Linked DNA regions of Homo sapiens. The protein of the gene in region 1 interacts with the protein of each later gene in a pairwise test. Each region holds a gene or a part of one and is shown in the gene's direction. Other genes may lie near its edges.

Evidence for each region.
Region 2: the proteins of RNF112 (region 1) and SOD1 interact in binary tests that used the Homo sapiens proteins (3 or more experiments, as listed by UniProt).
Region 3: the proteins of RNF112 (region 1) and NDUFV2 interact in binary tests that used the Homo sapiens proteins (3 or more experiments, as listed by UniProt).
Region 4: the proteins of RNF112 (region 1) and MECP2 interact in binary tests that used the Homo sapiens proteins (3 or more experiments, as listed by UniProt).

The regions. Positions count from the first base shown.
Region 1 is NC_000017.11:19,411,706-19,420,145, forward strand, and holds the end of RNF112 (RING finger protein 112), read left to right. Parts: intron 1-792; coding exon 793-1,078; intron 1,079-1,232; coding exon 1,233-1,439; intron 1,440-1,574; coding exon 1,575-1,706; intron 1,707-1,871; coding exon 1,872-1,976; intron 1,977-2,389; coding exon 2,390-2,440; intron 2,441-2,743; coding exon 2,744-2,800; intron 2,801-2,880; coding exon 2,881-2,955; intron 2,956-3,040; coding exon of another isoform or gene 3,041-3,064; coding exon 3,065-3,182; intron 3,183-3,332; coding exon 3,333-3,502; intron 3,503-3,580; coding exon 3,581-3,634; intron 3,635-3,812; coding exon 3,813-3,887; intron 3,888-3,999; coding exon 4,000-4,470; 3' UTR 4,471-5,571; downstream 5,572-8,440. UniProt on the Homo sapiens protein: E3 ubiquitin-protein ligase that plays an important role in neuronal differentiation, including neurogenesis and gliogenesis, during brain development.
Region 2 is NC_000021.9:31,660,427-31,666,087, forward strand, and holds part of SOD1 (superoxide dismutase [Cu-Zn]), read left to right. Parts: intron 1-3,363; coding exon 3,364-3,460; intron 3,461-3,879; exon of another isoform or gene 3,880-4,056; intron 4,057-5,661. UniProt on the Homo sapiens protein: Destroys radicals which are normally produced within the cells and which are toxic to biological systems.
Region 3 is NC_000018.10:9,113,704-9,122,098, forward strand, and holds part of NDUFV2 (NADH dehydrogenase [ubiquinone] flavoprotein 2, mitochondrial precursor), read left to right. Parts: exon of another isoform or gene 1-3,935; intron 3,936-4,134; coding exon 4,135-4,200; intron 4,201-5,622; coding exon 5,623-5,685; intron 5,686-5,770; coding exon 5,771-5,887; intron 5,888-7,561; exon of another isoform or gene 7,562-7,753; intron 7,754-8,395.
Region 4 is NC_000023.11:154,033,251-154,041,645, reverse strand, and holds part of MECP2 (methyl-CpG-binding protein 2), read left to right. Parts: intron 1-1,742; exon of another isoform or gene 1,743-1,854; intron 1,855-4,784; exon of another isoform or gene 4,785-7,722; intron 7,723-8,395. UniProt on the Homo sapiens protein: Chromosomal protein that binds to methylated DNA. It can bind specifically to a single methyl-CpG pair. It is not influenced by sequences flanking the methyl-CpGs.

The DNA.
Region 1 (8,440 bases):
AGTGAGGCCAGGCAGGTCAGTTGAAATGGCCGGTCCTGGAACACAGAGCCCGGCAGCCCAGCCGGGAGGGCTGTCCGCCTGAGGCTGGATCCGCCAGGCTGTGGAGGGAGGGACAGGAAGAAGCAGGTGGGTGCTGCAGGGAGGCAGATGCCAGCTCAGAGCAGAGAGCGGAAGGAATCTTCTAAGATCCAGAGCCATCTGCCCAACTGCAGCACAGGCTGATGGCTTCTCCTCACTGTCCCTGTAGCATGGGGTTGTGGAGGGTATCATCCCTGGGGGCCTGGCTGAAGTCAGCACCTCATGGAGGGAGCCCCGCTGTAGAACGCCGGGAGAGGCTCTTCCCAAGCATTTGCACCAGGCACTGTGCAGACAGCTGCACACGCCTCCTCTCGGATGGCCACCCCAACGGCCCCATGAGGGGTATTGCTATCCTCTCCATTGGGACAGTTAGGAAATTGAGGCCCAGAGAGGGGAAGGAACTTGCTTGCATTTGCATGGCTGGGATGTGGTGGAGTCCATTCCACTCAGATTTTCTCCCTCTCAGACTCTCTCACCATTGCTCTGCTGCCCCCACTCTGAGGCCCCCAGGTCCTAGGACACATGTCAGTGAGGAACGGGCAGAGCTTGGCCTCTCTGGGAGCAGCTCCGCCTGTCCATGGAGGCACTGATGGAAATTGGGTTGGCACAAAGGGACCTCCACTCCCAAGCCATCAGTCTTCCACCACAACCCTGGCCGGTACCCCCTGCCCCCAATAGACATCCTGCTTTTCAATGGCCTGTTTTGCCCCACAGGTCCCATACACCTTTCCCCAAGTTGGAGCTAGGCCTGGGGCCCCAGCCCATGGCGCCCCGGGAGCTCCCTACCTGCTCCATCTGCCTGGAGAGGTTGCGCGACCCCATCTCGCTGGACTGTGGCCACGACTTCTGCATACGGTGCTTCAGCACACACCGTCTCCCGGGCTGTGAGCCGCCCTGCTGTCCTGAGTGCCGGAAGATATGCAAGCAGAAGAGGGGCCTCCGGAGCCTGGGCGAGAAGATGAAGCTCCTGCCGCAGCGGCCGCTGCCCCCTGCACTGCAGGTCTGGGGACTGGGCCTAATCAGTCAGACCCAAGAGGAGGGGGTGGCTTTGGCCCTATTCTAGAACATCAGGACACAGAGCTCCAGGCTGAACACATTCCAGGGTCAGGAGCTGGTCCTGGATGCTCAGGGGCCCCTCTCTTCTCCTGGCCCAGGAGACGTGTCCTGTGAGGGCGGAGCCGCTGCTGCTGGTTCGCATCAATGCCTCTGGGGGCCTCATCCTTAGGATGGGGGCCATCAACCGCTGCCTGAAGCACCCTCTGGCCAGGGACACCCCAGTCTGCCTCCTCGCTGTCCTGGGGGAGCAGCACTCAGGGAAGTCCTTCCTCCTCAACCATTTGCTTCAGGGCTTGCCGGGCCTGGTGAGGGCGGGGCGGGGCAGGAGGGAGGCGGGGAGCAAGGATGGGGGTTCCTGCCTGGGGGAAGCTGGGTCTGGTATTCCGGTCTGTGGGGACAAGGAACCGACCAACTGATGCTCTCCCTTCTCTCCCCTGCAGGAGTCTGGTGAGGGCGGCCGGCCAAGAGGAGGAGAGGCATCCCTGCAGGGCTGCAGGTGGGGCGCCAATGGCCTCGCCAGGGGCATATGGATGTGGAGCCACCCCTTCTTGCTGGGGAAAGAAGGGAAGAAGGTGAGGGGGGAAGTGGCAGAAGGAGGTCAGGGATGGGAAGGGGAATCAAGAAGGGCGTCTCTGGGGTGAGGATAGAAGATGGGGATGGGACGGGGCAGGGTTGGGAAGAATGTGGGAGAACAAGGCAGGCCTGGCCCCTTGGGTCTTTCCCTACCCCCTGCATAGGTGGCGGTGTTCCTGGTGGACACAGGGGATGCCATGAGCCCTGAGCTGAGCAGGGAAACAAGGATCAAGCTCTGTGCTCTCACCACGATGCTGAGCTCCTACCAGGTGATGGGGGGCGCTGATGTTGGCATCCCCACCCCACACACCCTTCTCCAGCTCAGCTTCCTCAAGGCCAGAGCATCTCACAGGCTTTGGTGTCTGGGGTCCTGATAGGTTCTGGGGCTGCCTTAGAAGGGGGAAGGTGCTCCTAGTTGGTGAAGGTGGGAACGTGGGTTATTCCTAAAAGTGGGCTGATGGTCCCAGGGGCAGCTGAAGACCTGATGGATCACATTACCCTCCAGGCTTGTCTCCGGCCTTGAGGCCAGCCCAGCCCTGCAGCCTTCGAGGCCCCCATACTGGCCTCTCCCATACTCTGAGGCCCACAGGCTGCCTGCGAGCTCCCTACTCACCAGGGCCTTCCCCAGTGAAGTCACCCGGCCTCTGTAATCTCTCATACATGTTGTTCTCTCTGATTCCAGATCCTCAGCACCTCCCAGGAGCTGAAGGATACAGACCTGGACTATCTGGAGGTAAAGAGACCTCTGATGTTGGGGCATCCCCCACCCCCACCCTCCCCACTAGGGCTGGACCCAAAGGAACTAGGTGCCCTCCTGGTCTGGCCTAGGGTTTTATGACACTTGAACAGGGTTGAAGGGGGAGGGTGGAGAGTAAAGCAAGAGATGTGTGGTCTGGGGAGAGGCAGGAGAACCCCAGGCTGCAAAAGGGGGAGCCTAGCTCCTACAGCAGGCGTAGGGAGGTGGGGAGACAGGCTTGGGGTGCACCATAGTCCTCAAAGTGGCCCAGCCCTGACGCTTTCTGTGTCCCACCCCCAGATGTTTGTCCACGTGGCCGAGGTGATGGGCAAGCATTATGGGATGGTGCCAATCCAGGTGAGACACCTATCTCTGGATTCATTGGCCCCAGGCCCCGCCACCCCCATTTGCTGGTGTCAGGACCCCTTCTCTTTCAGCATCTGGACCTCTTAGTTCGTGACTCATCCCACCCCAACAAGGCAGGGCAGGGGCATGTAGGCAACATCTTCCAGGTGAGTGGTGCAAGGGGATGGGGTGGAGGGGCCATGGACAGGGCAGAGGTGGGGAAGACATGGGAGGCTGGACCTCCTAGCTCAGAGCACTCCTCTCGCTGCCTCACAGAGATTGTCTGGCAGATACCCCAAGGTGCAGGAGCTGCTGCAAGGGAAGCGAGCCCGTTGCTGCCTCTTGCCTGCCCCAGGGAGGCGGCGGATGAACCAAGGCCATGCAAGCCCTGGTGGTGAGTGTCTCTGAGAGCTGAACCTCTCTTGCGCTGCTCCCAGCTCCCCTCCGGCAACCGAGCCCCTTGAAGCACCCACCTCTCCTGGCCTCTGACACCCCTTCTCCTCCCAAAGCCCGCAGTCTCTCAGCATGCACATCTCTCCCTCAGACACAGATGATGACTTCCGCCACCTTCTGGGGGCCTACGTCTCAGATGTGCTGAGTGCGGCCCCCCAGCACGCTAAGAGCCGCTGCCAGGGGTACTGGAACGAGGGGCGCGCCGTGGCCAGGGGGGACAGACGCCTACTCACGGGGCAGCAGCTAGCTCAGGAAATCAAGGTGTGAAAACTCCCTGGAGACCCAGGCGACTCGGCTGGGCCCCTGCTCTCCCTGACCCCAGCGATGGTATCTCCGCAGAACCTCTCAGGATGGATGGGGAGGACAGGGCCCGGTTTCACCTCTCCGGATGAGGTATGAGCGCTGGGGGATCCAGCATTCTGGCAGGGAGACAGGGGAGGCAGGGAGGTGGGGGCTGTGCCGAGGCCTCCGGGGTGGGGGTCTGTGTGCCCTGGGAGTGGAGATGAGGAAACAAGCAGCGCCCCTGGCTGAGAAGGAAGGAAGGAGGCAGCCTGGGTTTTCCCGTGGACAGATGGCTGCTCAGCTGCACGACCTGAGGAAGGTGGAAGCTGCCAAGAGGGAGTTCGAGGAGTATGTGAGGCAGCAGGTGAGCCCCGGGGCTGCACGGGAGGCAGGTGTGGGCCGGGCAGGGTCCAGATCAGGGAGAGGATACCTGGGACTCCTGGTCAGGGCACCTTCTTTTCCCCTCCCTGTCACAGGACGTAGCCACCAAGCGCATATTCTCTGCGCTGCGGGTCCTGCCAGACACCATGCGGAACCTCCTCTCCACCCAGAAAGATGCCATTCTGGCCCGCCATGGTGTGGCCTTACTCTGCAAGGGGAGAGATCAGACCTTGGAGGCACTGGAAGCTGAGCTGCAGGCCACGGCCAAGGCCTTCATGGACTCCTACACGATGCGCTTCTGTGGCCACCTAGCTGCTGTGGGGGGTGCTGTGGGGGCCGGGCTCATGGGCCTGGCAGGGGGCGTGGTGGGTGCTGGCATGGCAGCAGCTGCACTGGCTGCAGAGGCTGGGATGGTGGCTGCTGGAGCTGCCGTGGGGGCCACAGGGGCCGCTGTGGTTGGGGGTGGCGTGGGTGCTGGGTTGGCTGCCACAGTGGGCTGCATGGAGAAGGAGGAGGATGAGAGGCTTCTGGAAGGGGACCGAGAGCCCCTTCTCCAGGAAGAGTAACAGCCCCAGGAGGTATTGAAGGACAGGAGAGATGTCAGGTGGGGATGAAGAAGAGGGGCAGGTCGGGGGAGGGTGATGCCAGGGATTCCAAGGCACCGCCATGTACTGCACTGCCCTGGTCGAATGCTCGGTGTCTGGGTGGCAGCTGAGCTGGGACTCAAGGTGGCTCTTGGAACCTGGGAGGCAGCATCTGGGGGCAGTGGATAGAACACCCGGCCTGTTTCTGGTTGCAGATGGTTGCCGATCTGCCCTTGTCACAGATAGGCTACATCCCAGGGTTTCTGGCTGCAAGTGAGACTCCACCCTCCCCACCTGGCTCATTTCCCCGATGACCCTGGATTGTAGGAAAGTTAAGCAGGCACCATCCTGGAAGTCTACCCCTAGGTGGTCGAGAGACCTGTTCTTTCACAGATGTGAGAAGCCCCAGGATGATTGACCATGGTGTTCAGGAGCGGGGAGCACTGATGAGGTGCTGGGGATGACAGGAAGGAAGGAACACTGGGCAGAACCAGAGAGATGGGACATGGTAGACTGTGGCCCAGACCCCAGAGCAGAGAAACTTGTTCCCATGACCCTTCCCAAATCTGCTCCAGCAGGACTAAGGTGGCTTTCCCACTCCTGGCCCACAGCCCCAGAGAGCCTGTCTGTGCATCCTGAACCACTCTTTGCTGGGCCTCCGCAAGGGCCTCTCTTGGGTCTGTGTCCTTTTTCAAGCCTGTTTAGATGGGGGAGTGCCCATGCCCTCTGTGAAGTGCCCAAATGCGAAAGAATAACACCTTTTCTTGCATTCTGAGCTAAGCCAGACAGCCTTTATACTAGATTCTATCAAAATCTTGCAAAGGAAAACAAAATGAACAACTTCTACCCTTAAACACATCCTTTCTCCCCTGGGCTTGTAAGAAGATGCAGCTTGATGCAGCTCCTCAAACACCAGGCCCCCTGGGAACTGGGGGTGCGGGAGTTCTCCCTCTGGGGGACAGAAAATCTGACTACTAGGAAGACTTCTAGGCTATGAAACTGACTTCTAGGCTATGAAACTTACAGGGTATGGGTGGGCACATTATCCTTTATTTTATGAAAAATAAAATGTGTGTATGTGAATGTCAGCTTCCCAGTATATTATTGAAACAGAATTTAACCCTCAGATGACTTCATGGTGGGAGCAGGTGAACCAATGAGATCCATTGCTGGAATGCACAGATGGGAAGAGGGAGATTGGAATTCAAGAGATCCAAGGAAGTGAACGTCAGAGGTCCCCATTCAGTGGCTGCAAGAGGCCTCAGGCCAAGGCCAAGTGGATATGGGCACCTTTGCAGGCTCTTCCACTAGGACTTGGGGTTCCGCTCCTCTTGTCTCCTCTCTGAGAAACTGCTTCCCATGATCCTGTCAACAGGCAGTCAACAAGCACCTGTCCCAGCAAGAGGACAGAATGGATACATAAGCAGAGAGAACTTGGTCAAGCCTTGAAGGAAGGAGAAGCCCAGGACCACTTCTGCAGGGCTCAGCCAGCCAGGAGTTCACCCAACTGATTCTCCTCCCAGCCCTGCTCCCCAGCTCCCCAGCTCCCCATCTCAGAACCACAGCAGTAGTCACTGCATCCAATCCTGGCATTTTATAGGTGCACACCCAGAGAGAGAAAGTCTCAGATAAGCCTGTGCAGCTGCTGATGACAGAAGCAGGGGAACCCCGAAGTCCTGGTTCCCAAGCTGGTGCACTTCCTGAAGTTATTTTGTTAAGGTCGACTGTGCTGAAATTGAGATGCTCCTTTTCAGATGCTTCTTCTGGCTGATCAGGTCCAGCTCCAGGGAAGTGTGTGGTGGGCAGAGGCAGCAACGTGGTCTAGAACAGATGGCTCAGCAGTGAAGCTATAGTTAACAGGCTGGGGACAAAATACAGAATGTAGAGAAATCCCAAAGCCAGGGTGGGGTTGAGTGGGGTAAAGACAAATGAGAGTGACTCTCTCTTTTAGGGTCTGAGCCAAGGGTGGGAACAGGGTCTTAACTTTGTGTAGTGTTTGTGGAGAAGGACTTTCTGGAAGCATCTTTCTGAGCCCTTCCACTGTCATCTGGTGGACACATGAGCTATGAAACCTTCCAGACTTTGGAGGCTCAGGATGAGGGGGCCCAGAGACTCAGAGAGGGAGGGTGTTACATGGCTAGAATCCCACCCGGCAGCACTGGAAGGAACAACAGTTCAGTGTCTACCTCTCCCCACTCTTTGCACAGATGGGAAGAAGTTGGCCCAGTGAGGGATGTCTCTGCAGAGACAAGATGAGTAATATTAAGTGGTGTTTGTCTTGTGCCTTGTAGCTTTCAAAACATTTCCTCAAACATTATCTCCCTTAAGCCTTGAAATCATCTCAAGCAGTATGTAGAACACACATTTTCACAGAGGAGGACGCTGAAGCTGAGAGAAATAATGTGTCTCAGTGGAAACAACTAGTCAGAGGTAGGCCAGGACTTGACCCCAAGAGTTCTGGTGCCAAATCCCTGGCTCAGTGGAGCCTTCAAGCCTCTCCAGACTCCAAGACGACCAGGCTTCTGGGTTCCAAACCTGATTAGTTGGCTTCCTGGGCTTCCAACATTGATTCTGTAATTCACAAGAGCCCAGGTGTGACTCATTGACCGAGGTCTCAGCAGCATGCTGACGTCTGGCTGGTTTCCCTTCTGTGACCCACTGCAGGTTCCAAGATTGGTAGGTTCCAAGATTGGGTTAGAGGTTTGGTGACTTGCCGTGTGGTTCCTGTTTCTGAGGCCTCCCTCATGTTGCAGATGGCAGTACTGCAAGACAAGAGGAACCTGCGACCTGAAGGCCCTTGACTGCTTGGATCAGGAATAAGCCCTCAACTCCACTGGCTCTCATCAAACCACGCCGCGAGCAAGGAATAAACTTTTACTGCATGAAGGGGATGCGACATCTAGGTCGACTTAGTACACCATCACCCACCCTACTCTAACACACACAGAAATGGGTTCTTTGAAATGGAGTGATGCTGTATCAGACAGGTAAAGTATCACCAGTTGGGGGCTGGGCAGTAAGGAAAAGCATTTTATGTCACAGCAGAACGTTTGCTAAAATTGTTGCCTACGGCAACTTGGAAGACAGACCTTGTGCTATCGAGGAAAAAAAACTATTTTAAATAAAATCTCCTGCCAACCCAGAATATTCTCTCCACAAATGTAGAAAATAAAGAAAATACTAGTTCTGTGATTGAATAAGCATTAAACACATGGATGCATTATCAGCTAACGCAATCATAAAGACAGTCAGAAATCCCCCTATTTATGTAGTCAAGCAGCTACAACCCGTTACACACATGCTGTCATGTGTGAGGACTTGAACTCAGGTGAGAGAGAGCTCCACAGCGTCGTTTGCTATACATGCACTTACAGCGTACCTAATTCACCTGGTGATTGGGGTGGTCATCTGTGCTAATTAGTGCCTTTTTCTGTAGGGAAAATAAAGCAACTTGAATCTCTAGGAAATGCAGTTGTTGGCCGGGCGCAGTGGCTCACATCTGTAATCCCAGCACTTTGGGAGGCCGAGGTGGGCAGATCACGAGGTCAGGAGTTCAAGACCAGCCTGGCCAACATAGTGAAACCCTGTCCCTACTAAAAATACAAAAAATTAGCCAGGTGTGGTGGTGGGCACCTGTAATCCCAGCTACTTGGGAAGCTGAGGCAGGAGAATCACTTGAACCCGGGAGGCGGAGGTTGCAGTGAGCCGAGATCACACCACTGTGCTCCAGCACAGGCGACAGTGTGAGACTCCGTCTCAACAAAAAAAGCAGGTTGTGCAAGGCACCTAGGCACGCCTTGACACACCGTTGGTGACAGCAACATGTCGTCCTTGATGTTACACTTACGAGAGGGGGCTCCCAGCCTTTTCAGAAAAACAGTTTTGGGTTTTAATTCTGGTAAAAGATTTATTTAAACTTTAAAAAGACTTGCATAAGTATCTGAAGGAACAG
Region 2 (5,661 bases), on another chromosome or scaffold:
AAATACGCAACAGAGACCGTTTGTGTGACACTTTGCAGGGAAGTTTGCTGGCCTCTGTTCTAGGTCATGATTGGGCTGCAAGGGCAGAGAAGGTAGCCTTGAACAGAGGTCCTTTTCCTCCTCCTAAGCTCCGGGAGCCAGAGGTTTAACTGACCCTTTTGGGGATTTTTGAGGGCAGTGATCTTAACTTTGGGTGCACAGTTAGCTTATTTGAAGATCTTACTAAAAATACACCAGAGCCCAACCTCCGACCAATTACATCAAAACCTGTCCTAGTGCAGGGTGAGTATTGCTGTTTTTTGAAAGTTTCCAAAAGTGATTTTGATGTGCACCTACGATTGAGAACTGTCGTTTGAGGACAGTGGGTGGAGTTTCGTATTTGGAAATTAGAAGACCTGGAGTTTCCATTACACCGAATTGGCACTTAATAACTGTTGTCGGAGCATTTCTTAAGCCACATTTTCGTAAAGTGGCTTTAAAATTGCTCTGCCAGTAGGCAGGTTGCTAAGATGGTCAGAGACAAACTTCTGAACGACTCTTGTAAAATATACAGAAATATTTTCAGAACTTTTATCAGTAAAATTACAAAACGTGTTGCAAGGAAGGTGCTTGTGATAACACTGTCCCCAGAACCTTAGTGAAGTTACCAACTGGTGGAAAATTTTCTCTTGCACTCGGCTTAAAAATCATGAGGGAATATTTACTATACGAATGAGATTCAGTCTTTAAAGGGGTTTACAGAAACGTGAGAGGACAGGAACAGTTAGTCTGTGTAAATGTCTGAAATATATGTGAGGGAGATAATGAGTTTAGCCTTTTTCTTTAATAGGTCTCCAGATTTTCTGGAAAAGGTTCTTTGGCATTTGACTCCATTTTGCTGTTTCATTTGTCAGACTTCTTTTTGTCCCTCTTTACTTCTCCCCACATAATTCACCAGTACTAGTGTTTTGTTTTTCAGACCAAGTCTCGCTCTGTCGCCCAGGCTGGAGTGCAGTGGCGCGATCTCAGCTCACTGCAACCTCCGCCTCCCAGGTTCAAGCAATTCTCCTGCCTCAGCCTCCCGGGTAGCTGGGACTACAGGCGCGCGCCGCCACGCCTGGCTAATTTTTTATATTTTAGTAGAGACGGCGTTTCACCATGTTGGCCAGGATGGTCTCGATCTGTTGACGTCGTGATCCACCCGCCTCGGCCTCCCAAAGTGCTGGGATTACAGGCGTGAGCCACCCCGCCCGGCCACCAGTGCTATTCTTAAGACGCCTCTGAGGAATCCCTTCTCCCTGGCCATTGAGAATCCATGCATGAACCCAGGTTTTCCACCTTCCCTGAGCAGCTTGCATAGTTCCTTCTTTTAAGCGCCTGACTTCGTTTTGTTTGGTGCCCGTTGTACCTGAGAATGAGCCTTGGATAGTGGAGCATTCCAGCTTTCCAGATATGCAGAGATAATACATTGGCTATCAGCTACTTGGCTTGGCCTATTCCGTGTTTAAAATCTTGGACTCTTTGCTAGTTTTTACAGATCAGAATTTTTCACGTATTAATCCAGTTTTCCTAGCTTCTCTTGAAGAATTTTTGGAGATCTCTTCATACTGAGCCTTCATTAGCCCAGGACAGTACTGCTGTAGCAGTTCATATATTTTTTCGCTTCCCAGGCCTGTGTTATTCACTTAAGTTCATAGCCTGGTCCCTGCAGGGTTGTACCCGAGCACAGCTACTTAGATGTCCTGAATGTATTACCGGTTAAATGGAGGTTTCAAAGAACCTGCTGTTTTTGGCCCTGTGCTCTTGATAACAGAGTGTTTGAGGGACAACTTTCACATTTGAGTTTTTCCAAAATTAAAGGTTGTAGAAGAGTCACAGTATCTATTGTCAAAAAGAAAAGAATTTAAAAAGGCAGCAATTGCCAGGATACTTCATTTGAGCAATGATATTTTCCAGTGGAAAGTCACATCTTAAGGGTTAATGCCCCTTAACTGTTGGCCGTATTTGAAAACAAACCAAGCTAAAAACAAGAGACACTGACATGTTGTATGACGGTGTGGTGTGGATGTTGTGTTTATTTTAGTCCTGAGATCTAGTTGTAACTTCCTTGATTTCTGTATGTAGCCACGGAGCACCATTACCTGTCACCATTACCTGAATGGCTATACTGCTTGCTTTCATTTTGGTAGAGTGGAAAGGTTACCTAGGTTTCAGTGCTTGAAAAGATTTCAGAAAGCAGTAGTACGTCTGGTTAGACTAGAATCAGTCCTCTCCTGGGGGCAGTGGAATATAATATTTTCTGACTGCTAATTAAAAATACCTGTGATAGCCGGGCGTGGTGGCTTACGCCTGTAATCCCAGCACTTTGGGAGGCCGAGACGGGTGGATCACGAGGTCAGCAGATGGAGACCATCCTGGCTAACACGGTGAAACCCCGTCTCTACTAAAAATGCAAAAAAATTAGCCGGGTGTGGTGGTGGGCGCCTGTAGTCCCAGCTACTCAGGAGGCTGAGGCAGGAGAATGGCATGAACCTGGGAGGCGGAGCTTGCAGTGAGCCGAGATCATGTCACTGCACTCCAGCCTGGGCGACAGAGCGAGACTCGTCTCAAAAAAAAAAAGAAAAAAACTTATGATGGACACTTAAAAACACTCACTGAGTGGGGAGTGGAGAGCAGGGGTCCCAGGGTAGCCTGTTGGACATTTCCAGGGCGACTTTTTCTTTTTTTTTTTTTAAAGTCAAGTGAGTATGCCATATGGAAAAGGGTGTGCGTGGAGAAAAAGCAAGGGGCTCCAGAGTGTAGGATGAGACATACACCTTTTGGGTTAAAAAGGCTGAGGCAGGAGAATGGCGTGAACCCGGGAGGCGGAGCTTGCAGTGAGCTGAGATCATGCCACTGCACTCCAGCCTGGGCGACAGAGCGAGACTCTTGTCTCAAAATAAAAAACGTTTACATGTACATGTATATTCAACATGTACAAATATAACCTATTCAAAAGTATTTACTACATAAATAGGTACTTACATTACCTATTTACTGTAATAGTCAAAGCCTATGAAGTATCTAACACTGATGTGTAGGTACTCACTTTGCTTGCCACTCTATTAGGTGCTTTTTATGTTATTTAATCATGAAGCCTGGCCACAGGGTGCTTGTGCATTGAGTGTGGGAACAAGATTACCATCTCCCTTTTGAGGACACAGGCCTAGAGCAGTTAAGCAGCTTGCTGGAGGTTCACTGGCTAGAAAGTGGTCAGCCTGGGATTTGGACACAGATTTTTCCACTCCCAAGTCTGGCTGCTTTTTACTTCACTGTGAGGGGTAAAGGTAAATCAGCTGTTTTCTTTGTTCAGAAACTCTCTCCAACTTTGCACTTTTCTTAAAGGAAAGTAATGGACCAGTGAAGGTGTGGGGAAGCATTAAAGGACTGACTGAAGGCCTGCATGGATTCCATGTTCATGAGTTTGGAGATAATACAGCAGGTGGGTGTTGTGCTGTGCTGGTGACCCATACTTGTTCACCCTAGTTAGATAAACAGTAGAGTAGCCCCTAAACGTTAAAACCCCTCAACTTGTTTTTGTTTTTGAGAAAGGGTCTTGCTCTGTCGCTCAGGCTGGAGTGCAGTGGCGCTGTGCGATCATGGCTGACCTTAGCCTTGACCTCCCAGGCTCCATTGATCCTCATGCCTTGGCCCGTAGCTGGGACTACAGGTACACACCACCACGCCTGGCTAATTTTTGTATTTTTTTCTAGAGGTGGGGTTTCATCATGTTGCCCAGGCTGGTCTTGAACTGCTGGGCTCAAGTGGTCTATCCTCCTCGACCTCCCAAAGTGCTGGGATTACATGTGTGAGCCACTGTGCCTGGGAAAACCCTCAACTTTTCTTTTAAAAAAGAGGTCAACTTTATTGTATATAAGCACTGTGCTAAAATTGCAGGAACTGGGACCATATCCTGATTTTTGTAATAATGCCAGCAGAGTACACACAAGAAAAGTAACTGCACTAGATTGTGAAGACTGGGGTGGACCTGCTTCTGAAGGTCCAGTGCCCTTTGTCTTAAGATTTGGTGTAGTGTGTCTTTAGAAACCAAAAAAAGAGAAGAAGATCAACCTTAAGATTAGCCACAAAACTGGGCTTTGATACCTAGGTGTGGAAAAGAAAGGGAAAGAGTTGATGTTTTGTCTTACAGCATCATTGTAGAAGAGGGTGTTTTTTTGTTTGTTTGTTTTTTGAGACGGAGTCTTACTCTGTGGCCCAGGCTGGAGTGCAGTGGCGCGATCTCGGCTCACTGCAAGCTCCGCCTCCCGGGTTCATGCCATTCTCCTGCCTCAGCCCCCTGAGTAGCTGGGACTACAGGTGCCCGCCACCCCGCCTGGCTAATTTTTTGTATTTTTAGTAGAGACGGGGTTTCACTGTGTTAGCCAAGATGGTCTCTCTCCTGACCTCGTGATCCGCCTGTCTCAGCCTCCCAAAGTGCTGGGATTACAGGCATGAGCCACCGCACCCAGCCAGAAGAGGGTGTTTTTTAAAGAAGGCAAATAGGAAATAAAAACTTGGGCTCTTAACTTTTGTAATGATCCCAGGTGTTTGAGCTGGGGGTTGAGGGTGGGTGCCTCGAGCAAAGGGGCTGCATTTATTTGCATAATGCCATGTAAGAGTAGCTCTACACCCCAAACACAGGCTTCTTAGTGGGACCAAAGTATGATACAAACTGAAGATGGAATGCAGAGGATTATTGGTACTTTGGAATATGCTTAAAAAAAATTTTTTTAAAGTATTTTTAAAAAATCAGGCAACCCCTGAACCAGAGTAGGTTCAGAGAAACTGCCAAATTTTATTTTCTTAATTTGGGATTGGAAGCAAGTTAACAGAAGTTTATGAGTTAAGTTGCATTTAGTGATCTTTTGCCATATTTGAGTAATAATCTGATTTTTTTGTTTATAGATTTCTTCTTAAATTAACTTTATTCATCTTGCTAATTTAGTTTCAAATAGTGATTTGTAATGATCAGATTTGATCCATTTCTGTAATTGCTGAAATTCCCCCGAGTTGCTTTTTGGCTTTACCGCCTCTGGTCTGGGAGGTGATTGCTCTGCTGCTTCCTGTAACTTGCCTGCCTTTCTCCCTGTGTGGGACTCCTGCGGGTGAGAGCGTGGCTGAAGACAGCCGTGTTATGAAAGGGCCTCCTGTGCTGTCGAGGTTGTGCTCTGTGAATGTCATCCCCTGGTGCACAGCAGCACCTTCTACACAGGATACAGTTGGAATGCCGCCCCCTCGAGTTGTGTAAGGCAGCAGCCTTGGCCCTTGCACATAAGATGCTGTTGAATATTCTGCCTGCACCAAGTAAAGGGCACAGATAGAACTGCTTGGCATATGTTGCTGGGGAGATGAGTTTTTTGTAAAGTATACTACGTTCTTAAGAATTTGGATCATAACCATGGGATTTTAATAATAGAAAAACTGTTGAAGATCAGTCTGGTCCCTTATTTTTACAGTGAAGAAGCCAAAGCCCAGAGAAGGGTGTTAACTTTACAAGTGTCAGACAGTAGTTAGAACTTGGTGGGGTTTTTTTTTTTTTTTTTTTGAGATGGAGTCTTGCTCTGTTGCCCAGGCTGGAGTGCAGTGGTGCGATCTCAGCTCACTGCAACCTCTGCCTCCCAGGTTCAAGCGATTCTCCTGCCT
Region 3 (8,395 bases), on another chromosome or scaffold:
GACATTGTATAGAAAAGCACTGTGAAAATCCCTGTCCTGTTCTGTTCCATTCTACCCCCTGCTTGCTCAATCGATCACGACCCTCCCAAACAGACCCCCTTAGAGTTGTGAGCCCCTAAAAGGGACAGGAATTGCTCACTTGGGGAGCTCGGTTGTTGGAGACAAGAGTCTTGCCGAAGCTCCCGGCTGAATAAAGCCCTTCCTTCTCAGTGTCTGAGGGGTTTTGTCTGTGGCTTGTCCTGCTACAATGGGAGTGACATGGAACAGCCTAGGTGAGTGCTGTGCATCACTGCTAAGGGACCTTGAGCTTGGGAAACCCTGTCTGTAAGAAAACTCACTCAACTTTTGCCCCAGGAGAAGGTATTTTATACAAAAATAATAGAAAAGATGGTCTTAAACAAAAGCTGTTCAGTGCTGCTGCTCACCAAATGCACAAACCTAAGACCCATGGAAATCTTTCTACCAGCCTATTTCTTCCTCCTTCCCCACTTTCTTTAACTAAAAGAGAAATTTATGAATTAATTTCAGTGGAGAAGTAGATGGTTTTTTAACCATCAAATACATTATAATTTTACTAGAAAAAGTATAAGCATTATACATATGGATATAAAGAAAAAATAATTATGTGCAAATGCAAGAATATTGGCAGTATGTTGTGTTTGACAGTAACTCTTTGATAAAGTCAACTAACAGCACAATTTTTTAAAAATAGGTGTAGTTTTAAAATGCAGTTGTTTGGATCTTTTTTTTTTTTTTTTTTTTAGTTATTAAATGTTTTATCCTTGTGTCAGTTAAGCAGGTGATAATGCTTTACAGGTTATATAGTACTTTCAGAGAAACTTTACTTAAATCTCAAAATAGTCCAATAAGAAGATAACCCTGTTTTATAGGTACAGAAATTGAGGCTTAAAAAAAAATTAAGTGAGTTGTTCTAGGTCAGATGTTAGTAAGTGGCAGAATGGTAATCTAAACCCAAGGCCTCAACAACTACAAAAAATCTGAAAGTCTGTTTTTTTCCTAGAGTTTAGCTACTTTATCCTGACCCTTCTCAATCAGTAGTCTGTCTTCAACGATTTGGACTTCAAACCACTTTTAGAAATATGTCTGTGAACTCATGTGCGTATCCAGAGCTTTACAAGTCAGCAAGAGAATGCCTCAGAATAGATTTTCCAATATGTAGCAACATAAGCCTAAAGAATAATTTTCAAGATTATCTCTATATTTTTATTTTAAGTAAAAGTACATGACAGATCCTGGATTAATGAGAAAGGGATCAAATATTAATCCAAAATGGAAGCTATTTTAATTTAGACATTTGGTGGTATTTAATTTGATATACAAGGAGGTTAGAAGGAGAAATAGGTTTTACAATAGAGATAAGTTTTTCTTATACCTGCTGAGTGTTTTATTTTAAGTAGGATTTTTTTGGCCAGTTAATCCATGCTAATAGGAAATTTGGAAAATAGAGAAAAATATAAAAAATGTAAAATAAGAGTCCCTTATTTCATTAACATCGTAATAAGAGATAAGCACTTTTAATTATTTATGGCCTTCTAGTCTTTTAATCAGTGTCTGTATTTAATGTAATTGGGATGATAATTTATGCATTTTTGTTTTTTTTGTTTTGTTTAACCCTGATTCCAGTTTCTACATGATTATTTTTACGACATATTTTTGTTAGCTACATAACGTTCTAGTGTCAGAATTATTAGTATTTAGTTAAAACCTGCTCAGATTGGGTTTTTAGGTTGTGTTTTTGCTGCAATAAACATAATAGGAACAACATGTTTTCATGTAAAGCTTTATCCTCATTTTGTACTGCAGGAAAAATACCTAGGTTAGAATTACTAAATTAAAAAATGGACACTTGGGGCCAGGCGCAGTGGCTTACGCCTGTAATTCCACCACTTTGGGGAGCTGAGGCGGGCAGATCACTTGACATCGAGAGTTCAAGACCAGCCTGACCAACATGGAGAAACCCCGTCTCTACTAAAAATACAAAAAATTATCCAGACGTAGTGGCACATGCCTGTAATCTCAGCTACTTGGGAGGCTGAGGTAGGAGAATCGCTTGAACCCGGGAGGCAGAGGTTGTGGTGAGCCGAGATCATGCCATTGAACTCCAGCCTGGGCAACAAGAGCGAAACTCCGTCTCCAAAAAAAAAAAAAGACACTTATTTAGGCTTTCCATATATCATGGTAATTTGCTTTCTAAAAGGCTATATGAATTTTTAAGTGTGCTTGTTTCTCTATATGCTCAACAGAATGGAATGCTATCTTAAAAGAAAAAAGATACTTGGTAGTTTGATAACTAGTAATGTTATTTTAAGTTGTATGTTTTTAGTTACTAGTAAGCAGTTTGAATTCTGTGAAACTTTTGTTCATGATCTTTACTCATTTTTTAAGTGCATTTATGATCTCTTCAGGCTATTAGCCTCTTGTCATCAAATGTGTGTAAGATTTAAGACTCATCACTGTCAAGTTAATGGATGAGTTCTCAGAGGCAAAGGCTTTATAGAGAAAAGAAGATAGGAGTGTGAACTGAGCCCTGAGGACAGCCTGCAAGGAGTGGATAAAAAGCCAATAAACAGAAAATGTTAGTGTTCAGAAATTAGGAGAAGACTGAATACTTTCCCTACTCTTAAAATTAATCCTTTTATTATAAGTATACAGTCTTTTCTCTCAGAATTTAGTTAAGTAACTCACTGATGTTACTCAAAAATTGTTACTCGATTAAAAAAATTTTCTGAGCTAAGATGACAGTGACTGTCTTCTAAATTTTAGTTTCAGTTAATTTTTCAAAACAAAACCAACACAATCAAAGCCCCCTTGTGCACCTCTGACTGTATCCCTCCCTGCCTTCCAATTATCCTGAAATTGATATTTATCACTCCCATCTTTTGTACGTGTGTCTCACATCCTGTACCTTAGTCTTTTCTTGTTAATTAAAGCAGATGTTCCATGTAAACTTATTTATTAATATTTCTTCAACTGAAATATCATTTGGACCTAGGGTAAAGTTAAATATACTATTGTGTTATATTACTCCGTTTACTTTCTTCTATGTTTGCCTTTGAATTGTCCAACTCTTTGCTAGTTCCATGCTTGGTTTAACCCAGCCAGTGTTCTGCCGTCTGTGGTTAGTAGAACTCAGAAATTGGAGGAATCCAGAACAGTAGTTGAAATACTTGGGGGCGGGGGACAGGGTAGGAGTGGAGGGTAGGAGCAAGAGGGCAAAGAGAAATGAAATGCAGCTGAGAGAATAATCAGATTCCTTCCAAAGCAACTGAACATTGTCAGTCCGCATAGCATCATAAATAGCTTTCTGAAACTACTTTTTTTTTTTTTTTTGAGACGGAGCCTTGCTCTGCTGCTCAGGCTGGAGTGCGGTGGCGCGATCTCGGCTCACTGCAACCTCTGCCTCCCAGGTTCAGGCGATTCTCCTGCCTAAGCCTCCCGAGTAGCTGGGACTACCAGCGTGCGCCACCACGCCCAGCTAATTTTTGTGTTCTTAGTAGAGATGGGGTTTTACCATGTTGGCCAGGATGGTCTCGATCTCTTGACCTCGTGATCTCCTTGCCTTAGCCTCCCAAAGTGCTGGGATTACAGGCATGAACCACCACACCCGGCCAGAAACTACTTTTTACGGCTGGAGTTTCAGAACTAATTTAGTAAAGGATTGAAAAGGAAGGAGGATACAGTTGACTCATTTGTACAGAGTATATGACTCATTTGTACAGAATGAAAACATGTTTATGAAGGTTCACACTAAGTGAAAGCTGGCATCCAAGTTGATTCAGACAAAAGTGAAAGTCAAGAAGTTAATAGTACATTAATTCTCCAAATGCATGCCAGCAGAGCGTGGCAGGAAGGTACACAAGTCAGCAGATCTGGGTTGTCCTGGTTCTCCTATTGACTCGTGTGTGTGATGTTAGGTGGGTGAATCTTGGCTTTGAATCTCCATTTGTAAAATAACTCTCCTGAAATAGAGATGGATAGGGTAGAATACCATATTTCTTAAGATCTTTTATAAGTTGATTCCATTGTTGTAAATTATGAATCCTAAAGTATTTCTTTATGAAAAATTTTTTAAGGCTATGATTTACTAAACTTTCTTAAAATTTTAAATTTTAGGGAAGACATGTAAGGAATTTGCATAAGACAGTTATGCAAAATGGAGCTGGAGGAGCTTTATTTGTGGTAAGTAATTACTTAGATTTCTTTGGAAAGAAAAGACTTGGAAATTGGGGTAAATCCATTGTAAAAATCCAAAATATCTTAAATACCATTGTCTTTGATATATGATGGTCATCGTGAGAATTTACATACAGCTAATTGAATTTACTACATTTCAAAAGATGTTGGTTCCAGTTGAACCTCATGAGTTTAAATTAGTATCAGGAAAACTCTGGGAATAAGAATTTATTTCCAGTGAAATTACTGTGTGAGCCCTAACCTGATTCTCATCACACTTTGGGTTCTCAGTCATGTTGGCTTACTGAGAGTTTGGAGATTGTAACTTGTTGAATCCCAAAATGACACTAGTTTGAAACTCATGGATTTTAGTAATGTAGTAACTAGATTAGCAGCTGGTCTTTATATTTTTAGTTTCCGGAGTTTTAACTATAAATAGAAGTCTGTGAACTCCCCAGATTAGTTGCACAATTTGGAAAGGATAAGATATTATATCTCCCTTTTCTGACAAGGTGCTGTTTTCAGGGATTAATCTAGTATAAAGGCAATATAGTGGACTTGTGTGATGATTTAGAGTTAGTGGTGTAAGAAGTAGCTTCCTGCTATATATCAAGCATCAAATTGGCCACATATTTGAGATCATTGTCCAGAGTGTCTGTTTTCTTTCCTCTTTTGGCTTATGTCCTTTAAAAAGCAGAACTCCGAGAGTTAACATATCAAGAGATTCATTTCTGTATTCACCACACATACATAACATTAATTGATCGTAAGTGTTAATCTCAGTGTGACTCATTTGATTTCCTGTTGACATGCCATTTCTTGTCAGTTTTTGAAGAGGGCCTGCTTCTGCTCTTTTAAGAAGAGATAAAGCTTCTTGCTGTTGGCTATTATGGAAAACGTGGGAAAGAGATGGTGCTGTTTTTTTTTTTTTTTTTTTTTTTTTAAGATGGTCCTTTTGTACCCTCCTAAAGTAATGGGTCTTAACCCTTTTGGATCCCAGATCCCTTTGACAATCTGATAACCTTGCTTTTGGGAAAATACACATATGTTCACATTTAAAATTTTGTGTTTTAATTTCATAAAGGCTTCCAATAATTGGTAATGTTTTGGTAATTCTATCAGAAGATCTTACTCTCTAATGAAGCTGGATAACACTTTTTGTTGTTTGGGTTTTTTTGGTCCTAAAGGTACTTCTCTTATTCTTTAAATGGTCCTTTGTAAATTTTTAAATTCTGCTAACTTTACTTTGGTAATCATACTTATCAAATGTGTGTTTAGACATTCTTTTTGATGGAAGGATAGGGTGGTATATATCATGTTGGAATTAAAATGGAGAGATTAAACAATAAGTAATAGTATAGTAATGTACAGTGTCATTCACACTTGAGAGAATTTGGATAAGTCTGAAAAACTGTTTTTGTTGTGTAGCACAGAGATACTCCTGAGAATAACCCTGATACTCCATTTGATTTCACACCAGAAAACTATAAGGTATGGCTAAATTAACATTATAATTAATTTACCAAATAGGTAATATTTTCTAGATGTATAAAATGATGTTCTTTCTTTTATACAGAGGATAGAGGCAATTGTAAAAAACTATCCAGAAGGCCATAAAGCAGCAGCTGTTCTTCCAGTCCTGGATTTAGCCCAAAGGCAGAATGGGTGGTTGCCCATCTCTGCTATGAACAAGGTACTGGATTCATTTTTGCCTTAGTTCTAAAAGAGAAGAGATTGTGTATGATAATTTCCTTTTATAGAAATTACTCTGATCATCTCCAGTGTCAGAATCTAGGATTTTGGAGCCCTTTAGCCATTTGTATGTTTCCTTGAATTGTCTTTGTGTTTTTGTTCATTCCCTTAATGCATAGAGGTGATTTCTAACCTTGCAGGAAATAAGGAAGGCATTATGGTGAAAGAGGGTATGTGTTTTTTTTTTTCCTTTTGAAGGAAATGGTCAAAGATAAAAGATTCCAAATGTGTATAACTTAGTGTCAAGATATTCTGAAAATTAATGTAATATTTAAACACTAGAATTACAGAAAAGAAGATCTGCTCACTAGTATGAAAATTTTTAATATTTTACATCTTTGGCTGTAGGCTGTAAGAAAAATCTGTATAATAGGTGATATTTATACAATTTGATTATGCTACTTTGGAATCAACGACCTATAGAAATGCTATGGATGACCCATTTTATTCAAAGTTACTCTATTCATATAATATTCATTTTTCCTAATAGTTTTGAGCAGTAATACAAATTTCAAGTTTATTCGTATCCTGTTAATACAAATAACTACATTTGTGTGGTGATGTATTACAGCATATCATTTATAAAGTGCCATACACAAACCACATACTATTTGATTCTGATGAGAATCACATAACCATTAAGCTGTGTTATATAATGGAAAATATTTTTGACTTAGAACTAAGACACCTGATTTTTCTCTGAACTTCCTCATTGGCAATGAAAGTTTTGAACCAGGTAGACCTCTTCTAATTATTAAGTTATGATTTCTGAGCGGTAGTGCTAGGACTGAATTCATTTCTAAATCAGTGCATTTTCTACTTGACTGACTATAACAGAGATTTTGTTGTACTTCATTCTTACCACTTTCTAAACTTAATTTGGTTATAACTCTTAGGCTAGACAATCATCTTTCTGAGAGAATAGGAATGTCCTCAATTTATCTAATAGAATCCTAAATGCAAATTTTAGATTTAGTTTATTGATATTTTATTTTATTTGCATTGTATAGTACTATAACACTGGTTTTTCCCTATGAAAAATATTATAAAGCAAGTTTAGTGAGTTACTATCCTGAGTAAACATAGGTGGTTATTTCTTCGATAAATTATGTATTTCTTGGGAAGTTACTTAACATTTTTTTAAATTAAAATAGCCAACTTTATAATGATTTAGGTATATGTTTCTAATTATAATGTTATTATTTTGAAAAAATCATATTTTTAGTAATGGTAAGCCTGTTGGAAATCTTGCTGAGTGGCACGTTAGCAGAGCAAAATAAAAATAAATAAGAAACTGAAAGTGAAAACATTTAAAAAATAAGACAGGCATGGTGGTGCATGCCTGTAGACCCAGGTACTCAGGATGTTGATGTGGGAGGATTGCTTGAGCTTAAGACCAGCCTGGGCAAGATGGTGAGACCCTATCTCTTAAAAAATATGTATTTATATATTGTCCTATTATATTTAGGGTTGGATTTGTGTGGGGGAAAGGCAGGAAGTGTAGGGTATAGGGAATAGACTCAAGATTCTTTGCACTTTACATTTGGGACTTTTATTTTAATGTTACTGCCCCTCCCCCCAACCCATGAAACACCTAACCTTACAACAAAAAATATCCAGAAGCTTAATAATTATTTATTTAACCGTCACTAAGGTGTAGGGAGATGTGCAGAATTCCAGGAAGGAGTCTTTTCCTAATTAGACAGTCAGAGCCTCATTCCAGATTTATTATTCCTTTGGTAGGGTTCCAGCATGTATATTTTGATAGAGAGCTCCCCAGATTCAGGGATACGTCCTTGATTCAGAACTGCCGAATGAAATAGCACAATTACTTTATCTGTCACAAGTGAGCCATGATTAGATGTCTTTTGAGAATATATTTCCTTTAGAATTCCTAATATGAGAAAGTTAACATACTTGTCTGAAATGCCCGCTCTTCTTTTATATTAGAATATGGATATATCTATAATTTTTAAGAATGCCAGATAGTAAGTCTTAATGATAATAGGTCACCTAGAAAGTTGTAGACAGAATTATAAATCACGATAGACAAGGACCAGCCCTGGCAAACAGCTAGAAATCCTCGTTTTCCCTAACAGACTTGCCCTAAGAAAAGATGCTGAGTTAGTGATCCCCTTAGTCCTGAACACCAGAATGTCAAAACAATTGTTTTCTATTAATGTCTTGACGTGAAGGGTTAGAAAGTACTAGACTATATGATTCAACTTTCAAAAGAGTATTGTGATATGAAATAGAAGTAGTGTGCTGGATTCTGGGAGAGGAGTGTGTGATTGTGTATGATAATATGTGTATACATATATGTAGAGATATAAAATTTTGAGTTTACATATTTAAAATATGGGCCAATAGTGAGCTTTGATTTTCAACCTTTTTTTCTGTTGCTGTACCATTTGTATGTAGGCTGTTTGGAAAAAATTGGTGAGAGTTT
Region 4 (8,395 bases), on another chromosome or scaffold:
TCACCTGGCTTTTTTGCCTTTTTGTAAAATCTGAAAACCTCAGGGATTGAGTAGTCTTTCCTTAACTGCAGTTGCCTGTCTGGCCACACCTGCCAGCTGTTGCTTGTACCCCTGTAATTTGCACGGCCTTCCGGGCCTTTCTCACAAGATCACTGCAGGTCACATTCATGAGGAAAATGCAGGCAGTTCCTGCCATCAGACCCCTCAGGATGTCATGGTTTGGCCTGAAAACAAGATTCCTGCAACTCTAATTTTCCTTTGCTAGATCAAATGAAGGATTTGATCTAATGTTTGCATTCTAGCAGCAAAATCATTGAATATTTTATTTCTTAAGAGCCTTACTTCATATTTTGTAGGTATTTTAAGATTTTGTAAAGGCCTTTCTGCTTCAACGTGTGATGTGTGCATTCTTAGAAAAAGATCTTGTGTTCTGTAAATCACACAATAAAAACATGAGTTCGTGCAGGAAAAACTGGGGCGGGGTGGATCACTCCAAACTTGTGTGGTGTGGTAACTGGAGCTCACTGATGAAACCATGAACAGTTCTGGCTGAAAGAACCCCACAGTACACTGAGGTCTGTTGGCATCGCCGCCAGCACCGCCCCGGTCCCTTTGTGCGCGCCACCACACCTGGCTAATTTTTTATTTTTAGTAGAGAGGGGGTTTCACCATGTTGGTCAGGATGGCCTCGAACTGACCTCGTGATCCGCCCACCTCAGCCTCCCAAAGTGCTGGGATTACAGGTGTGAGCCTCCGTGCCCAGCCTTCAGCTTTTTTTCTTAATGTCTTTGTGTAATATGAAGGCATTCTCTTTAATTGTTAAAAAGCTTGCCTACCACTGCTTCAAAATATTACTGTCAGTTGGCATAGCTTCTGATTATATTGATGTCATCTCCCTTCTTTTAAACATGTTACCATATTGGCACTGTATTTCCCCTAGCCCATTGATCACTTGAGAGTTAGTCATAGTCCTCGTGCTGTTTCACTCCTAAACGTTTAAGCATGCCTTTCCTAAGAGCAGACAGTACAGTTAAGACACTCAGGAAGTTTAGCAATGAGCTAACACAGAACCTTACATTTCTCCACATACCCCATAAATGCCTTTTTTAGAGCCTTTGAGCCTGGAATGCAGAGTCCAGGACTGTGTGTTGTATTCGATTGTGTCATCCCTTCAGTCTCCTTTATCAGAAATGTTCCCCCACCCCCTTGTTTTCTCTCATCATCTTGAGTCCAGACCGTGGTTGCATGGCACGCCCTCTCTGGACTCTTCCTGCTGTCTCCTCACGGTAAGCTTCAGTCTCCTACTCGTGATGCTGGTTCATCTCAGCAGCACTGAGGGGCCTGAGCTCAGTTTGGTCGTGTGTTAAGGTGGTGCCTGCCAGATTTCTCCACAGAAAAGGGCCCCGTACTTTTATTTGCTCTTCAGCCTGTGTATTCCTTCCTTTCTTGCCAGCTTGTGGGTGGCTTCTCTAGCAGCTTCTGTAAGATACTCAGTTTGGCAGTTGTAGTTGTTTCAGCAGGAGAGGTGTCTGCATACCTGACCACCACATGGCTAGAAGTCGATCCATCCTCTGGCGTAACCATCCTCCATGCTACTGTCCCTGGGGCACTGAGGCCCTCCTCAGTGACTTCCTCCACCTCATCTTCCGCCATCTCCAAGCCACCAGTGTCCAACGGACTACTGATATGTCCCAAACTCATCATTTGTTTATTCACCAATTCAGAGCCCACCTTTTTTTCAGCACTGAGCTAGCCTCTCCTTGCTAGAAGCTTACGGTCGAAGGTCTCCAGCCATCAGAAGAAGCACGTGGAGCGCTGCGTCCGTGTTGTGGTTATTCATCCAGCATGTGTTGAGTAAGGGTTGCACCTGTGCCTGGCATTATGCATTGAGCGGGGAGATGGGGGTTGGCACGCACAGTGGGGTGTTCTAAGTACACTGAGGGCTCGGGTGCCCTGGCTCATAGAGCAGGGAGGGAGGCAGGAGCAGGGAAGGTGTCTCAGAAGTGCCATCTTTTTTTTTTTTTTTTTGGGAAGTGGAATCTTGTTCTATCGCCTGGTCTGGAGTGCAATGGCACTATCTCAACTCACTGCAGCCTCCGCCTCCCAGGTTCAAGCGATTCTCATGCCTCAGTCCCCGAGTAGCTGGGACCACAGGCGCACACCACCACACCCGGCAAATATTTTGTATTTTTAGTAGAGGCGGAGTTTTGCCATGTTGGCCAGGCTGGTCTTAAACTCCTGGCCTCAAGTGATCTGCTCACCTCGGCCTCCTAAGGTGTTGGGATTACAGGCATGAGCCACTGCGCCCGGTCTAGAAGTGCCATCCTAACTGAACCTGAAAGATGAAAGTTCTCCAGATGAACCTGAAAGTTCTCCAAATGAAAAGGTGGGAGGGGGTGACAGGGTTAGGCCCAGAGCCTCTGGTGACACAGGGTGGGCATCATTGGTCACTTTTTCCTCGAGGGAGGGGCGTCACACGGGTGATAGGGTGGGAGCTATAACCATGTTGATAGTGCCGCCTCTGCCCATCTGGCCTGGCATGCCCTGAGCCCTCTGTCCCACCTGTGGAACTCATAAGCCCTGACAGCCCACTCACTCCTGATTCATTATCCACACCCCTGTGCTTCCGCTGTGCCTGGAGCAAGCTTTCTTCAGGGGGAAGGGAGGCTGGAACTATGTTGTAGTTACCTATTTGTCCTCCCTTCCAAACTGTGAGTTCTTGGAGGTGGAAGGATGCTGCAGGATCTGGCTCAGGACGAAGGCAGTTGGTGAACAGACACGTGTGTTTTTGACTCACGGTGATCTCAGACAAGTTCCTCTGTCTAGTCGAACTTCTTTTTTTCCATCTGTAACACTCAGGAGTTGAATAGGTGGTTTTTCTGAGGATACTTCAACTGTAAAATGTATGAACTTGTGAACTAGCTATTTAGTTCTCCTCATAATCAAGATTGTGTGTGTGTGGGGGGTTCTGATTAGAGGGAGGATGAAGAGAGGTGTATGGGGTTTTTTTTGTTTTGTTTTCTGTTTGTTTGTTTGTTTTTGAGATGGAGTCTCACTCTGTCACCCAGGCTGGAGTGCAGTGGCACGATTTCGGTTCACTGCAACCTCTGCCTCCTGGGTTCAAGTGATTCTCCTGCCTCAGCCTCCTGAGTAACTGGGATTACAGGCATGCACCACCATGCCCAGCTAATTTTTGTATTTTTAATAGAGATGGGGTTTTCGCCATGTTGGCCAGGCTGGTCTCGAACTCCTGACCTCAGGTGATCCACCTGCCTCGGCCTCCCAAAGTGCTGGGATTATAGGCATGAGCCACCACACCTGGCAGGTTTCTTTGAAAAAGTTTGTGTTTCGGCAAACACCATAAACCCCCTGGGGGACAGCCTTGGGGAGTCACCTGGCACCCTAGCCCAGCCTCCCTCCCTTGGGTCCTGCAGTGAAGGCTTAGTGAGGGTGTGCAAATGCCCAGGTCACCCTGGGACTGGGCAGGCCCTCTGGGCTAAGGGTAAACTCATTTGGAATACCTGTTTTCTATCATTGTTTTTTATTTGTTAAATTTAAAGGGTACAAGTGCAGTTTTGTTGCGTGGATATATTGTATAGTAGTGAAGTCTGAGCTTTCAGTGTAACCATCACCTGAATAGTGGACATTGTACCCGTTAAGTAATGTCTCATCCCTCACCCCCTCCCACCCTTCCCAGTCTCTCCAGTGTCTGCCATTCCTCACTCTGTCCATGTGCACATGCTATTCAGCTCCTGCTTCTAAGTGAGAACGTACGGTATTTGACTTTCTGTGTCTGAGCTGTGTCACTGAAGACAATGGACTCCAGCTCCATCCACGTTTTTTATCATTTTTACCTGCACTCCACACCCAGCACAATCCAGGCTTCTTTGTGGGTTTTTTGAAATTTGTCTTTAATTATAAAAGTAGCAGCCAGCAAATTAACAAACACCCATGTGCCTTTCATTGCACAGAATTGAAAATCATCATACTATATTTGCTTCAAGTAATTTCCATTAGAAAGAACTAGAATATTACAGTAGAGTTAAAGACCCTTTATTTCCCATCTTCAGTGCTCTTAAAAGTTCATTTAGGGCCAGGCATGGTGGCTCACACCTATAATCCCAGCACTTTGAGAGGCCCAGGTGGGTGGATCACCTGAGGTCAGGAGTTCAAGACCAGCCTGGCCAACATGGCGAAACCCCATCTCTACTAAAAATACAAAAATTAGCTGGGCGTGGTGGTGCGCATCTGTAATCTCAGCTACTCGGGAGGCTGAGGCAGGAGAATCGCTTGAACTCAGGAGGGAGGCAGAGCCTGTATGCAGTAAGCCGAGATTGCGCCACCACACCCCAGCATGGGTGACAGAGCAAGACTCCGTCTCAAAAAAAAAAAAAAAAAAGTTCATTCATTGTACACTTAGAAATAGTTAAAAAGGTAAACTTTGTTTTGTGTGTGTGTGTATATATATATATATATATATATATATATATATATATATATATGTATTTTTTTTTGAGACATATATGTGTCTGGTTTGTTCGCCCAGGCAGGAGTGCAGTGGCATGATCAACGGCTCACTGCAGCCTCAACTTCCTAGGCTCAAGTGATCCTCCTGCCTCAGCCTCCCGAGTAGCTAGGATTACAGGCACACACCACCATGCCCAGCTAATTTTTTTTTTTTTTTTTTTTTTTTGTAGAGACAGGGTTTTGCTATGTTGCCCAGGCTGGTCTCAAACTCCTGAGCTCAAGCGATCCACCTGCCTCACCTCCCAAAGTGCTGGGATTACAAGTGTAAGCCACCACACCTGACCTGTTTTGTATATTTTACCACAATAAAAAGCCTTTAAAACCCCAAGCAGACAGTTCATTTTCATTCAGGCCCAACTCAGAATCTGATCACAGCGGGGTTTCCCCCCTTTCTAGCGAGTAGCTGAAGAACTGTTTTCTCTCCTTGATGGTATAACTGTCTCTGTGGGTGTTGCTCCCCTGCCGCTCCAGTGGTTTTGTTTTTGTTTTTGTTTTTTTGAGACGGAGTCTTGCGATCTCAGCTCACTGCGACCTCTGCCTCCTGGGTTCAGGCGATTCTTCTCCCTCAGCCTTCCATGTAGCTGGGACTTACAGGCACCTGCCACCACGCCCGGCTCATTTTTGTATTTTTAGTAGAGACGGAGTTTCACCATGTTGGCCAGGTTGGGCTCGAACTCCAGACCTCAGGTGATCCACCTGCCTCAGCCTCCCACAGTGCTGGGATTACAGGTGAGAGCCACTGCACCCAGCCGGCCCCTCAGTCTTTTCCTTCTCAATCAGTGGCACCACCATCTTCCCAGGCTTTGGACATGGTCCCTGACTCACCCTTGCCCCTCACCCCCACACTAATCCACCTGCGAGCTCTGTTGCTTCACCACCTAGACCAGCCCCAAATCCTCAACTGCCCCCACCCTGGGCCACACCTGGACCACTGCTAGAGGCCTCTCATGGGCCCTCCCTGTTTTTCTCTTGCACTCCCCGGGCTTTCTGGCACAAGATGCCCCAGAAGCAGAATCACATATCTCTCCTGGGAGCCAATCTAGTGTGTTTACTGCCCCTGGAGTGTTATTGTTGGCCTTAGAATATGTCCCACTACAGGTTTGCAGAGCACTGTAGTCAAAAGTCATTTGAAATAAATCTTTTCTCTGTGGTATATTGTCAATTTGATATAGAATTAAATTTGTTTCTTTTCTTTTTTCTTTTCTTTTTTTTTTTTTTTAAGAGACAGGGTCTTGGCCAGGCGTGGTGTCTCATGCCTGTAATCCCGGCACTTTGGGAAGCCAAGGTGGGTGGATCGCCTGAGGTCAGGAATTCAAGACCAACCTGGCCAGCATGGTGAAACCCCGTCTCTGCTAAAAATACAAAAATTAGCCGGGCGTGATGGCAGGTACCTGTAATCCCAGCTACTCGGGAAGCTGAGGCAGGAGAAGGCTTGAACTCAGGAGTCGGAGGTTGCAGTGAGCCAAGATCACGCCATGGCACTCTAGCAAGACTCTGTCTCAAAAAAAAAAAAAGAGAGAGAGAGAGACAGGGTCTTGCTCTGTCACTCAGGCTGGAGTGCAGTGATGTAGTCATGGCTCACTGCAGCCTCATACTCCTGACCTCAGGTGATCGACCCGCCTCGGCCTCCCAAAGTGCTGGGATCGTAGGCTGAAGCCACCATGCCTGGCCCGAACTCATTTGTTTTTATTTGCATTAAGTGTAATAAGGTTTTGTTACTTTTAGTTTGAATTTTATTTTGGGTAATATAAACATTTACATGATTCAGAAGTCAGAATTACACTGAGGCATGTTCAGCTAGGCCTCACTCCTGTGCCTGTACCCTTACCTTTTTCCCCCTACCCCATGCAGGGAATCAATTTCATTAGTTCCTGGTGTGTCCTTCCTTAATACCCCCCCTTCTTTCTTTGGTAGAATGCAGTAGATATGTTTGCGCTTTGCTCCCTTTGCTTCACAGTGGATCCTGGAAATGACTCCATCGCAGTTCTTAGAGCTCTTGTTTAGTCCCTTTGGATCTGCACAGTACTCCAGTGTGTGGGCGCACCATAAGTTTATTCAGCAAGTGCCCTGGTGATAGGGATCGGGGGTATTGGAAGCCTTTGGCTGGTAAAAATAATGTTGTAGCAAATAACATCATGCATATGTTCTTTGAGATTTCTGGAGGTGTCTCTTTAGCATAGATTTCTAGAAGGCATTCCTTACGTCACGTTTAGGTTTATAGTTTGACCTCATGGTGATTAAGGTATTTGGGAAATGCAAATGAGAGTTTCGAAGAAGCCAGATCTTTCCCATTAGTTCACTGTTTTTCTCTGACATTAGGACCGTCCGGGTTCTAGGGAGCAGCCCTGGCGTTAGGCAGTGCCATGATGGATTGTGTAGAAGTAGCGATTCCCATCTGTCTGCTTTCTTGGCCCACTCTGCTGGTGGCTCCCCTTCCCTCCCTCCTTTATGGGGAGCTGGGGAGCTGCCTAGGGGTCCATTCTCAAAGGCTGATCTCTGGTGGGCAACAGGCCACACCTAGCTTTCCAGGGTTCTTCGTCATTTCCCATTGAGAGCTGTAAGACTCAGAGACATGAAAAGGAAGCTCTGGCTGGGCACGGTGGCTCACGCCTGTAATCCCAGCACTTTGGGAGGCTGAGGCGGGTCGATCACCTGAGGTCAGGAGTTCGAGACCAGCCTGCCCAACATGGTGAAACCCCGTCTCCACTAAACATACAAAAATTAGCCTGGCGTGGTAGCACACGCCTGTGATCCCAGCTACTCCGGAGGCTGAGGCAGGAGAATAACTTGAACCCGGCAGGCGGAGGTTGCGATGAGCCGATATTATGCCATCGGCAACAGAGCGAGACTCCATCTCAAAAAAAAAACAAAAAACAAAACAAGGCGAGCTCTGTGCTGGGACAGATTAGGGACCCCTCTTTACAGCAAGAAAGACTGCTCTGTGGGTTGTAGGATGCCTTTGTGTATGCAGTGGCTCTAGGTGACTCTGGCAGCCACACTCTGGGCCCTAAACTTCTGGAGGAAGATACAGGATAGGGAGGAACTCAGGGGTGAGTCATGGTGGGGACAAGACATTCCCTCACTCTAAGACCTTGTCACTAGATTGGAACATCTCTTGCCTCCCTACACCTGACCTGATGGTTCTGGAGAGATACGTCCTTGCAGCTTCTGAGTCCCAGCACTAAGCAGCCTTTGGTAACTTCCCTACATCATTTGAGTTCTGGTTTCCTAAGGATGCTTGCCAGTGAGTGCCATGGTGCCCTCATTGCACAGTCTGTGCAGTGTAGACAAGAGGGGAAGTCTCTTGGGGTAGACCAGCCGCAAGGCGGTGACTAGCACTGATGTGAACCACATGGGACAGGGGAGTTGTGGGGCTGAGAACACGGAGGGTGGGAGTAGTCATGCTCTTTTCCAGAATGAACTGCTAACGAAGGGACTCGCAGGTGGCTGCTGCTTCTTTCCAAGCTGCCCCTGTTGTTGCAGAGGCTCTGGAGTCCTAGGAGGTTTCACGGTGGCATACTCGACAGAGTACTAGAGCATCATGGCCAGATAGTGATGCTGGGGTGTGGGGCCTCACGGTGGCCATTTCTGACGAGACCCCACCGGGCCAAAGTGATGTGTAGAGAAGGAGCTGCTTCGGTCACCAGAAAAGAACGGGGAAGCCTCCCACACTAGAATAGGTAGGGTGCTCTTCTCCACCGGCAGGAAGGGGATGTATGGCTCTGCCTGGACCACACCTTTTTCCTTGCTCTTCCCTCCGCATCTGCTGTGGCCGAGGCCATTCCTCATCAGGGAACATGTGTTAGAGGCTCACGCCACCTGGGACCACTTGTCTTATCACCCCCAGGACCCTAGGCGGTAGTTTCCT